3 separate regions of the Homo sapiens genome follow, and regions 2 and 3 are each reported to be linked to region 1. The links are microRNA targets in miRTarBase. Many come from high-throughput screens and were not tested one by one. Region 1 holds a microRNA gene; each other region holds the end of a gene's coding sequence.

Region 1 (4,152 bases):
CTCACTTGAGGTCCCCGACACTGTGCAGGTGGAAAGATTTAAGGGGCTCCTGAGAGCCCAGCCCCCATCCTGGCAGGCTGCAGGGGGTGGGTGGGGGGTGCGTTCTGGCAGCAGGGCCGGCAGCTGTCTGCAGGCCTCTCAGTGCCTGCTCTAGCTGGCCAGCGGGGGCCCGCTGCCACCCCCCACCCCATGATGCAGCAGAAAGTGAAACCGCAGTTGGCCCCTGCCGGCTGGGACTGATCACCCATGGTTTCCCTGCAAAACCAGAGTCCCAGGGGGCTGGTGGGCAGCTGGCTCCCAGGTCCGGCACAGTGAGGCCTGTCAGGCAAGTGCCCCTAGAGGCCAAGGGAGGTGCCCTGGCCAGAAAGGAGGGTGCTGAGTCATCGTGACCCTAAAATGAGAGAGAAATCTGAGCTATGGATCAATGCAGGAGTGGGGGGGTGAGGGGTCCCAGTGGTGTCGGTGAGCAGGGAAGGGTGGTTTCCCGACCCCCAAAAGGAAGATGTGTGACACCCAGTTTTGTCATGCTGGAGCCCTCTACAGATCTGAACTGGCAACTCCCCCATCTCCCCCCACCCCTCCCCACACCGACTACAGGAGTGCGGAAAATCCCTGAGATAAACAAGAATTCTCTAAAAGTGGACCTCTGAAACTTTACACACGACTTTCTGATTTCTGTCCCATCCTCAGGGCAGCTGTAGTTGCTTAATATTTTTCTTCCAAAACACCCACTCTTTTTTGTTTAACTGACATCAATTGATGGACAAAAAAAGGGCCCCTGTCTCCCGACCCTAAATGGAAAACCAACCAATTGCCTGAAGTACAAATCAGCGGTGCAAAGAATACCTACTAGAATAATTTTCACCTTTAGCCGGCGCCGCTTAAAATCAGAGATGTGCAAATCAGACTTGGGAGTCTGAGTTACAGGTTTCATGCCTGAGGAGCTGGTGGCTCAGAGAGACTGACTCACTTGTCCCGGGTGACACAGCAAGAGAGGCGCAGAGCTCGGGCTGGAATGCAGGCCTGGCTGATCCCAGAAACCCAGGCTCAGTGCTGGGCTGCCGTCTCCCCACCCATGAATTCCTCTGTGTGTATTCATATTATTACCTTCCATGTTTAATGCATGGACTCTCCAATTTTCAAAGCACCTTCAGAGCTTATACAACGTTAGAGCTTTTTATATATAACATTGGCTACATCCAAGAACCCTTTGAAGCCAGAGCAGGGGGTGCTGCCCCTCCCTTGGTGTATGGGGAAACTGAGGCAGCGAGCGGGGAAAGTGTTCTGTCTCAGGGAGCTAGCAGGAAAGCCAGGACTGCCCCAGGGCCCCCTGCCAAGGCGATGATCCCGGAGGCCCTGGCTGCAAGGACCAGGCCTCGTCAAACAGGTAACACTTGTTTCTTTCCGCTTTCCCTACCTCCCCCTACAACCCCCCAGAGCAAATGCTGACGCTGATGGGGAGCCACAGCTGTACTCCTTCCCAGGCCGGATCTCAGCGTCTGCCCCTGGAGGGCAAAAGCACGTTTAGCAACCAGTGTCTGCGCATGGCGTCTTTCAATTTTTCACAGTGATAACCGGTTTTGAGCACAAGAAGGCATCTACCAGGGACCCAGAAGGCGCTACAGCGGAAGAGTTTGGGGAACAGCTTTCTCTCTTCTTTGAGTTGCTGGAGGAACTCCGAGCTGATGTCTTTCTGGCCCAGGGACCCCCGAGGAATACTGCAAGAGCAATAAGGATTTTTAGGGGCATTATGATAGTGGAATGGAAACACATCTGCCCCCAAAAGTCCCTCATTTTCCCTGCGGTAACGAACCAGCTGGCAGGAAGTGGTAGCTCTCAGAGCACCAAGAGCCAAAACTAAAAAGGAAAAAATGTACAAAGTTAGAGCAAACTTTAAACAAGTGAGCGCTTTCATGGTGTACGGCGGCTCCGTGCAGACTCACGAAAGGGACCTCATCTTCTCAATAATTGGCTAAATAGGTCTCAGTGCAGCAGCTTCCACACAGACGTGCTCAGAAAACCACAGATCTGGAATCCCAGAGCAGGTTCCCAAAATGGATACAAGGATTATTCCCTAAAGCCAGGCGCATCATAGGAGACGTGACGTTTCCCCCAAACTTCAGATGACTGTTCCAGACCCTCATTAATGATCTAAGTTATCCTTCAACACCTCCTCCTCTGGAATGGGAGAAACTTAGTCCCCTTGGAAATGCTGATGAAAATACCTGGTTTCCACAACACGGACAGAAGGACTAAGGCTTGGGTAGGGGAGCTGAGTGGTTATCGCTGGTGGTGCAAAAGGGGCAAACCGGCTGGCGTGGGGGCTCACGCCTGTAATCCCTGCACTTTGGGAGGCCAAAGTGGGAGGACTGCTTGAGGCCAGGAGTTTGAGAACAGCCTGGGCAACACAGTGAGACCCCCCCCAAGTCTCTGCAAAAAATAGCCAGGTGTGGTGGTGTGTGCTTGTAGTCCCAGCTACTCAGGAGGATGAGGCTTGAGCCTAGGAAGTTCAGGCTGCAGTGAGCTGTGCTCACCACTGCACTCCAGCCTGGGCAACAGAGTAAGACACTGTCTCAAAAAAAAGGGGACGGGTTTTACTGCTAAGGTCCCAGGTGCCATCTCTTGGTTCAGCCACTAAGATCTGAGGACTAAGGAGTTCAGGGTGTCTTCCCCAAGGCATATAACCTTTGAGGCCCTGCAGGTGGGTGCCCCCTGTGCCAGCCAGCACCCTCAGAGCCAGGAAAGGGTTAACCCCTCCACATGGCTGACACCAGAGGAGGAGCTTACTACGCAGCCTGGGATATCACACTGGGCCATCTCAGAGAGGAGAGGCCTCTGTGAGTTCTGTGAATGGAAGTGGATTCACTGCCTTCAGATTGAGAACGGGGTGAAAAGGCATCCCCACACAGAACCGACGCCCCAGTCGCTAGCTGGCTCCTTGGCACCCGTCGCATGGCCCCGAAGCTCTGGCAGGGACTCTGGGCACCTGTACCAGTGAGCACCCGGCCATCTCGGCCAGGTCTGTGAGGGAGCGATTCTACCCTTGCCATGTGACAGCCGGCAACTAGGGCCCAGATCTCTTCTTTCAAGTAGCACCTAAAATATTCTCCGGGTGAACCTAGGGCTAAATACGGCATGGCCTACAGGTGCCGGGTCTGGACCTTTTAACGCCATTCTAAGATACGATCGAGAACCCACGAGGCCTTTGGTAGCCTGGAGTCCAGTTACTGGGGCCAAATGGGAGTCCCACGGGTTTGGCTGACTCAGGGCTGGGTGCAACTTCCTGGAGCAGGCACATGTTGGTGCCAGGGCAGAGAGGCTGCAGACAGTTTTCTTGTGTGTTTGAACCCAGAATGCCAGCCCAGTTCTCACTCTGGGCCGACCCCCAAGGTGGCTTAGTTGGTGGCCCCTTTTTCTGTCCACCTGGCCCACTTCTTTCCACTTCCAGCCTGCAGCCCGGCCCTTCCTGGCCTAGGTTTTCCTCCCAGCCTGATCAAAGCAAAAGGCTCAGCTCCCAGGTGGGAGGCCTCACGGAGCTGGAGAAGAGACCAGCAAACACATGCACGGTAACTCAGATGTGTTATGTGTTGTCTTGCTGGCTGGGAGCTACGCCTCCTAGGCCCACCCCAAGTCGAAGGATCGCAGCCCTGGTGCTCGAGAGCAAGGGCTTGGGGCTGGGCTGCAAAAGCTCAGCTTTGCCTCTGAATCTTCTAGAACCACGTTTGCACTCACACAGGACAGATTTGCTCTGAGCCTGTGGGATAGCCTCATCTGTTCCCCTTTGAGCATTTGGAAAGCAAAGTGGGGTTCTGCCCTCGCCAGAGCCCACAGGGTCACCAGGCTATTAAACCCTGCAGAGTCTCTGGGGAGGCTGACTTTGAGAGCCAAATACCCCATCTTCTGGCTGAACTGCTGCAGGCTTCGTCTCGGGAGGAAAGACCCCCAGGCACCTGTCTGGACTTGTCTGGGCACCAGTAGTGGCTCTGAGGCCACATCTGGGCCTCGGCTGGCAGAGGTCTGGGCTGTCTTGGGCACAAATGCCAATGCCAACAGGCCCAGCACTGATCTCACACGATTCCAGCAAGAGAGCCTAGATTTTTGCACATCTCTGAGAAAACTGTCATACCACACCGCACAGCTAACCTTAGGCGC
Region 2 (4,000 bases), not on the chromosome of region 1:
AAAATCGGCAGCAATCTGGAATAATTCAGATTTTTTATGAGATTAATTGCCAATCTTTTTATCTGTGACGATAATGCCAAAAATGACTCAGAGCCAATAACCTTCATCTGTCATATGGAAGAAACAATCCTAGGGCAATAGTTTTTTCAAAAGCGGAACTGACAAAGATAAGCGTTTAAAAGGGTCTTGATCAATTAGTTACAGGAACATGAAAGAAAGTGTTCCACAGAGAACTGTGTCTCCTAAAATCTCTTTCTTCTATCATCTACCTTACCCAAAATTTCTCAATCCAACCACATCTACCTGCTGGTCCATCAGATACCAGATGCCTTTACATCCAAAATTCTCTTAATGCTTTTTTTCCCCCACCAAAGTTCTCATTACAAATAATATAGATTGGAAGTTTGGAGGATGGAGGGGAATAAAAAGGAAAAGTAAAACAAAGTCACTTTCCCCAATCCATATATAAAACTACAAAAGAGTTTTCCTGTATTGAAATTAACATGCTTTTGTAATGAGCAACGCCTTAGTGGTAGGGTATTCAGTGAATTTAAACTAAGTTAACAGAATCTGAGAGGCAAAGAACTAAAAACAGGATATACAGTTACCCCTTAAAATGTCATTTCTGTTACCAAAAAGCCTGCTTCAGTACCAAGTTCCAACATATCTGAGTTATGCTACTTCACTTTTAGCCAATTCCAACTTTGATACTTTAAGAAAAAATCATTTTATTGTTAAAAAAGAAAAAAAAACTTAGATCTTATAGTTCATGAACTTCTAGGACAAGATAAATTCCTCTGTTTTAGACACAAAATAGATCACGTCAGTTAAATAGACTTTGTTTTAATTCACTCACTGAAACATCTCCAACTACTAGCAAAAATTCCGAATGTCTGAATGCACACTACTCTTCCTAATGTGGGGAGACAACTGTGTGCTTTGTATCTTTCCCACTCAAATTGGCTTATAAAATGAAATTATTTTAACTATCCAATGGAAGGTACATAATTTAAAACATCCTATAGAAATGACATGTTACTAGTAATTTACAATTTTAAAAAACAGCCACAAAAAAGTCAAAGCTAAAAACAAGATTTTTACTATGAATCAGTGCTTCTATTATCCTTCTGAAAGAAGTTATATTTTAATGTGATGTAAAGGCAACATTGAAATTTCTTCTTTAAATTAACCACCTAATTTATCCCTAAAATTACAAAGAATCAGTCTTTTACAGGTCAAGTGCAGTAAACTAAAATGTTCTCTCAGCACAAAGCAGCACTAGAAAAAGTAACAGTTATAGATGGGAGTTGACTAGTTTTGCAGTGGCTGCGCCATCAATAACAAACAGACATCAGACGGTATCCATCCCAGAGCACAGACACTACTACAGACTAGATGCGAAGAATGCGTCACACTCTTGGCTGATAAATGTCCTTTGTCTTTGACTCTTTCTAGTTTGAATGAAGTGGATTTTTTAAAAGTTTAAATCAGGTCACATAAGTTGGCTGCTTAAATAACATCATGATGAGGTATGAAAAGCTCTGAATATCCCTTACATTCAGCAGGATTTACCAGAGATGTATAATAGCTTGTCAGGGGCAACTTCCAAATAGTTTTTACACTTTGGGGTTATAATGAATTCTAGAAGAGGACAAGTCTAAAAAGGTTTAAAAGGGTATGCTCTGAAACAGAGGTGAGCAACCTTTTCCTTCAGAATTCACTTTGAACAGCACATCAACAAAAAAATCTTCTCTGGTAGTGTATCCCAACATTGAGTCAAGATGGCCAACTAGCACCGAGAAGTCGTATTGAACTCATTTGCAGTTGTCTTGGCAATTAAGCGTATTTTTTCATTCCAGTCCAAGCACAAATGTGGATCACTGAACACAGTACTGGAAGCGCCATTTGCAGGTACAGATTGCAGTCATCATTAAATGAGCCAGAAGGCAGATACTGTTTTTATTTTGTGTGGGGGGAGGGGGAAGCGGCACAGTACTAGCAGGAGATGAAATAAAATGATTAGGAAACAATGAGGTTATAAGATCACTGTTCTTATTTGGGTTAAGCAGGTCATGTTGAGAAGATGGTTATTTCTTTCAGATAAGGATGCTACATTAAAGGAATCGTGTGCAGCATGAAAAGATTAGAATCGAGCTGCACCTAAGAAAAAAATCCCAAAGTTACTTTCAAAAGTATGTGTTATCTGCCAGTCACAGAGGGGAAAAGCACCTAGGGTGAACTCCAATTTTTTAATGAGGACCTTGATCAGGACCACAAAGCCTGAAACATTTATTTTAATGCAGAAACACAGCCCCTAGTTACACTGATTGCATTTGGGAAAATTGGAGGGTTTTTTCGTCCTTAGTTTTTTTTATTAAATTACAGGATATGGTTTTCGATTACTAAGTATTCGAAATCCTCATACCAGCAACAGAAATGAACCACTTCCAAATTCTAAGACACAAAAGACCAAAGAGAAGCAAAAGCGATACAAATTAATATGTGCCCCTCTCCTTTCTGCTCTAAGGGAATCTACAAACCAGTATCACATTTAGGAGTCAAAGTGTTAATTCTTCAGCATTCCTGACAACTAGAAAGCACATTCACTGAAGGCTGAAGGTGAGGGAGTGGATGGTTTAACTTTAATATCTGAAGAATGGCGCCAATAGAGGAAAGAAAACCATCCAATCTCAGTAAGGATTAATGCAAATCTGGCTAGAAAAAGCCACCAGGTAATCCAAGGGTTCACTGTGGAAGAACTCATGAAAAGTACTCTGAAGTATACACAACAGGTCTAAACATCTCCCTTGTCGTAAGTAGTTGTGTAAAATTCAAGATAAAGATTTAGTCTCATCTTTTAATGTCAGTTTTTTCCCCCATGTTAAAGGGAATGAGGAGGAGTCCTCTTTTATTCCCCCACAAGAAAAAGGGAGCCACATTAATATGTGTATATTCCCATAACTCTAATGTAAGTGCGGATCTCCAAAGCCTAGGGATTTTTCCGTAAAAGAGAGTGGGCCGTTCTGGTTACCCTTTTATTAGAAGGGTATTCCACCACAGAGAGCCGGAGGTTTTCCAGATGTGTGTAAGAGAGCAGGTGCGCAAGGCAAGCAAATGAGCGCAAACAGTATTATGGAAAACATTTGAGAAGTTAGCTCCATGAGGACTGTGGGCTCCACAAGAGGACTCGACTGGGTAGCCTGGTCTGACACAGGTACGTGAAAGCAGAGTATTGCTTCAAAGCTGGAAACCTTCCATAGGAGCCTCACACTGTTGGAAGATGTACTGCTGCTGGTTAAGGTCAACCTGGGGTGCAATGCTGCTGTCTTCATCTTCGGTCCCGAAGTAATGCTCAATAAGATCAAAGGCCTTTTGGTAGATCTCCTGGTTTTCATGACTCTGTAAGAACTCAATTTTATCCAGACCTAAAATGAAGAATAAAGGAAAATCTTTATTGAAAACTTCAATAAATATTGGAAATTCCATAACTATATATTCCTAAACTATATTTTGTCATATATCTCTGTTCTTGATGTAAAGAAAGATTATTTGTATCTCATAAGTATTTTATAATAGCACAGAAATGACTGCTGGGATTACATCTGAAAGCTAGTATTATAAACTGACATCTTAAATACATATGCAAGTAATATCCAGTCTGCAGAAGCAGCAATTTCCTAACAGTCCTCTTTTCATCCAGTGCCTAGCAGTAGTAGTATTGTTTTTACTGAACTCTATCTATGACCCAATTCATTCTTGGCCATAAACTTCTTCAACCAAAGCATCTTACCATAAGCTTCTTCAATCAAAGCACAGTAAGGGTTAATGCCAGTGCCATTCCTTTTGGCTTCCTGTTCTCCAAGCCTCAGGATATTTTCCAAGCCATTTAGGGCAACCTGTACAATCTTAGAGTCCATGACCGTGAGGAGATCACAGAGCGGCTTGATACAACCCAGTTCTACTAGGTACCTAAATACAAAGAATAATGTAGTCAAACAAA
Region 3 (4,000 bases), not on the chromosome of region 1:
TAGGTTTTTCTTGGATATGCTGAGGGAAGGGAAGTTTGCATAGTTTATGAATAGAGATTGTCAAGCAAATAACCAGACATTTTTGAAACATGCTAAAATTAAAAGAACATTTATTACAGCTTCTTAATTTTGAAAAATGCAAACATTTTTAAAAACTCAAAACTACTACTTCCTACACTTGATTGCCTAGCCCATTTTCCCCTCCAGTTCTAGAATTTTTATAAACGAGGCTCTTCTTCGTTTTCCCTAGGTCAGAGGAATCGTGAGAAGACTGGAGAGAGTAATTGTTGTGTAATCCTGTAAACACTGTCTGCCTAGTGTGATGTGATATAGTCTTTGTCTTTCATGCTGCTGGGACAGAAAAGACCCGACATTGCTTCAGAAACCGTTCAGAACAGTCTGCCTGTAAACACATGGAACTGAATTACCACATGAACACTGTCATCTTTTCTCATGAAAGTAAAAAGAACCAAGAACATTTTTCACTCTGATTTTTTATTTCTTGTATTTTTTGTTGAGCTGTTTTAACACATATTGGTTTTTGAATGCAGTCAATCTCCAGGGGAAAAGTTAACAAGTTATCTTTCGTAGCAGAAACCATTTTGCTGCCACAAAATTTTCATCATCAGAACTAATAAATCAAGTGTTCCAAATACAATTTGCATTAAAAAGATTGGCATTATTTTCCTCATCAGCAGAATTTATAACAGTGTGTGGTATCTAGAAATACTTATATATACAATTCCACACTGGAAGACACTCAGCAATTAATGAAGTTAATTACTGGGCCAACTTGAGAGGAAAAAATGGAAAAGAAACTAAAATGTTGGGTGAATTCTACCAAAGTCAGCCGTGGTGGCTGCACTGGCACAGAATACTAAACTGAGTGTGACTATTTTCACTGCAACAAATGAAAAAACAAAATGTGCCTGTTTAAAGCACTCAGTAGAGGGCTGATGAAACTAATTTTTTTTCCTTTAAGACATGCACTCTTGAGTCCTACAGTAACTGAGTGTTTGTTTAGACAGCACAAGAAGGGGTGAGAGTGCGTCTCCTAGCCTTAATGTGGGAGGGTAGTTTCAGTCACTCATCGGCTTTCATTATTGTGCAGAAATATTAGAAAACCTCATTGATCAATTTTATGTATTTGAATATCAGCAAATTGAAATTTTCCATAATTATCATTAATTTGTAACCACATCCAGTGTCATGCTTACTCCTTAGAGTTCAGATGAATTCTTAAAATTAAAAAAAAACTCCATAGTACTAATTTTGTTTCTTTATATAGTTTGCGTTTGATATTAGTGCTTGCAATTGTATTAAAGTCAAAAGCTGATTTTTATGGCATACACAAGAATGCCACTTTTTCTTTTATTTCATACCAATAATTTAAAGATTGATATGCTAAAAACAATTTGCACAGCACTAAAGCATGAGCTACTTTCATCTAAACCTGTAAAAATATGAAAGATTTTTATATTTTTTCACTGGGAAGAAATTCTTCCTGGATGAAATTACAAATATGTGTAGAATATATTTAATAAAAGACTTATAAAATACCTAACTACAGGACTTAAAATATAGATTGGCGCGTAGTATACAGAACAATATTCCATATAAATAAGTTTAGCCTTTATAAAAATGAAGTTGCAGGCTGACATTACATTCTGTACTAAGTGTCAACAGCCCTTACAAACATTAAATGTAAATGGTTTCAAATGGTCAGCGTTGTTTAAATGTAATCATGTTATTTTATTCATTGTTAATGCTTTGATGAAAAGGCTTTATATGCAGTAGATCTACGAAAATATTGTTCATACTGATCAGAATTAAATTTGTATAGAGCAGAGTTTTAAAATGAATGTAAATAGCACTAAACGTTTTCTTTCTGCAACCTGTACTTACAGATTCTTCCTGTAAACTAAATAAAAAAAAAATGATAGTGCATTTTGGTGGTAATTTTAAAGGTCTTGATTAGGTCAATAATTGTTTAAGCACCGTCTCATTCATGTTTTCTACTTTCATTTCTTAAGCTTTTAAAATTCATTTAATTAATATTCTGTTGTTGTTTTGGGGAGTATTCCCAATGTATCTTTGATATTTAACCTGGTTAATTTGTGGACAGTCACAACAATGGATAGAATTATGTAGTCTCCGTTATCACTAAAATGTTATCTTCAAGAGATGTTAAATATTTATATGCTTTGTTGACTAGCTGAAATGTGAATTCTGTTAGTGTTGACTAAAGAATCTGGTAGTTGCTTAATTGGGCAATTAAACAATTTATGGCTCTATTTTGTAAAACAAACTACTGGTAATTATTTTTAATACCTATTTTCATTCTGATTACTCTTTTTTTAAGTTAAAGACTATCAGTTAATTAAGATTGAGTTTTTATGATGGTTAAAAATAATTCTCTATTGGTTTTTCAATATATTTTTCTGTGTGTTCTCAGATTATATATTTCCCTCAATTTAGAGTTTGCTAAGTGAAATAAACTGGTTCACTAGTAGAGAAAGAATTACGTCGCTTAATACCTAATATCATAGTTGTACAATATGAAAAAAAAGAATAAAAAGTAGCAGTAAAATTATATACTGAAAACACCAAAAATTTAGATGCCTTAATAGTATATACGTGAAATACTCAGCTGTCCCTTTAAAAATAATTCCTTGGACTGCCTGGTGGTTAAAATACGATTCCTCATATCCAAGGCTACTTTTGAAGATCCCTCTGCCAAAAATATAGCTCACTTATCTAAAGGTGAGAGCTGCATAGATCCAGTAATGTACATAAAGCCTGAATGATGAGCCTATGTCCCTGCCTAACGCTGGTGTCTCACTCATCTCTTTTACCTAAATTGTCCTGAACTTTGTTAAGTGTTCTGGACAAGGCCAAGCTTTTCTTTATTAAAACCTCAGCATGTCTCCCTGATCTGAACTATTTGCTTTCTCTTCAAGATAAGTTGTATTTTACCATGGAAAAATACAGTATCTAACATTACCATTCACGTTAAATGAAGTTTCCTCATAACATTTATCTTTAGTTTTATGAAGTCATCGTGACCAATGTTACAGTAATTTCTGTTAGCTGATTGTGGTAAACAATGTTTAATGTGAAAAGAAATTAAAACTTTCTTCATCTGTTGTAGAATATTTCTCTTCTTTAAAATGGCTTCTATTCATAATTCTGGTGTATTTGCCTATTCTTTATTTCACTACTGTTTATGTCTTTTTTTCTTTCTTCAGTTAATGATACTCTTCAGTAAAAATCAACATTGAGCCAGCCTTTGCTATAGTTTAGCAAAATCAAAGGGAAGTATCAGCCAAAATTTAATATGCCTTCATACCGTTTTTATTTGTAACTTTTTCGAGCATTCCAGTTTGTTTTCCATTTTTGTGTTATAATATGGTCACTTGTTAGCCAAATGGAGTGATTGGGGTGGAGTGATTGGGGTGGGGGAGAAGGCACATGACCTATAATTACAAACACAGCTATAATTGAAACACAGCTGCAGGCTGTGCTGGAGTCTAGGCACAGTTTTTGTGGCCAGGGTAGGGTGGGGTTCTTGGGTGTGAGCAGTGGTAGTTGGGTGTGACTCCTGGCTTACCCTGACCCCCTGCCAGTTGGTGTGTTTCCTTCAGAAGGCAGTGGCTTCTATGAGGCTTTTACACAGGAGGTGGTTGACTTCTGAAAGAGATCATGGATAGAACTAAATGAGAAACACTTAGTTCTTAAATATCAGAGTTTAAAGCAGTACTGAAATGTGAAAACCAATTTCACTTACTACATTATTTTATAGTCTTCGACAGTGATGTCAGATGTTTGTCTTTTAATATTTTTCATATTCCTCTTTTTCAAAATGACAGCTTTCAAGAAATATGGAGTAGGCATAGTAAATTCCCATTTGGGGAAAGGAAATGCCCATCTCTTCCACGTGAGTCAACCAATAAAAAAGGAGTTGGGTAAACACATTTTCTAAAATGGCTCTGGAAGTGGT

The links. Region 1 holds the annotated microRNA hsa-miR-365b-3p (UAAUGCCCCUAAAAAUCCUUAU, at 1,730-1,751, opposite strand). A microRNA usually pairs through its seed, bases 2 to 8, with sites in the 3' UTR of a target mRNA and lowers its output. Matches are read on the target gene's strand: a 7mer-m8 pairs with bases 2 to 8, a 7mer-A1 pairs with bases 2 to 7 and ends in A, and an 8mer does both.
Region 2: miRTarBase lists KPNA1 as a target of hsa-miR-365b-3p. Seed matches in the 3' UTR shown: 7mer-A1 at 72-78.
Region 3: miRTarBase lists UBL3 as a target of hsa-miR-365b-3p. Seed matches in the 3' UTR shown: 7mer-A1 at 676-682.

The regions. Positions count from the first base shown.
Region 1 is chr16:14,306,939-14,311,090 of GRCh38, reverse strand. MIR365A (microRNA 365a) reads right to left here and starts at 1,806; the gene lies at 1,720-1,806. All of the region lies in intron 1 of MIR193BHG (MIR193b-365a host gene), which reads right to left. RefSeq lists enhancers at 74-213, 314-433, 225-519, 2,406-2,455, 3,251-3,935 and 1 more and a silencer at 345-639.
Region 2 is chr3:122,423,748-122,427,747 of GRCh38, forward strand. KPNA1 (karyopherin subunit alpha 1) reads right to left here. Exons shown (of 14, transcript NM_002264.4): 13 at 3,791-3,969; 14 at 1-3,425. The coding sequence ends at 3,238. The region is part of intron 1 of WDR5B-DT (WDR5B divergent transcript); the gene reads left to right. Among named protein-coding and RNA genes, the nearest start is that of WDR5B-DT, 9.5 kb to the left of the region's middle.
Region 3 is chr13:29,763,558-29,767,557 of GRCh38, reverse strand. UBL3 (ubiquitin like 3) reads left to right here. Exons shown (of 5, transcript NM_007106.4): 5 at 251-3,187. The coding sequence ends at 303. Among named protein-coding and RNA genes, the nearest start is that of UBL3, 85 kb to the left of the region's middle.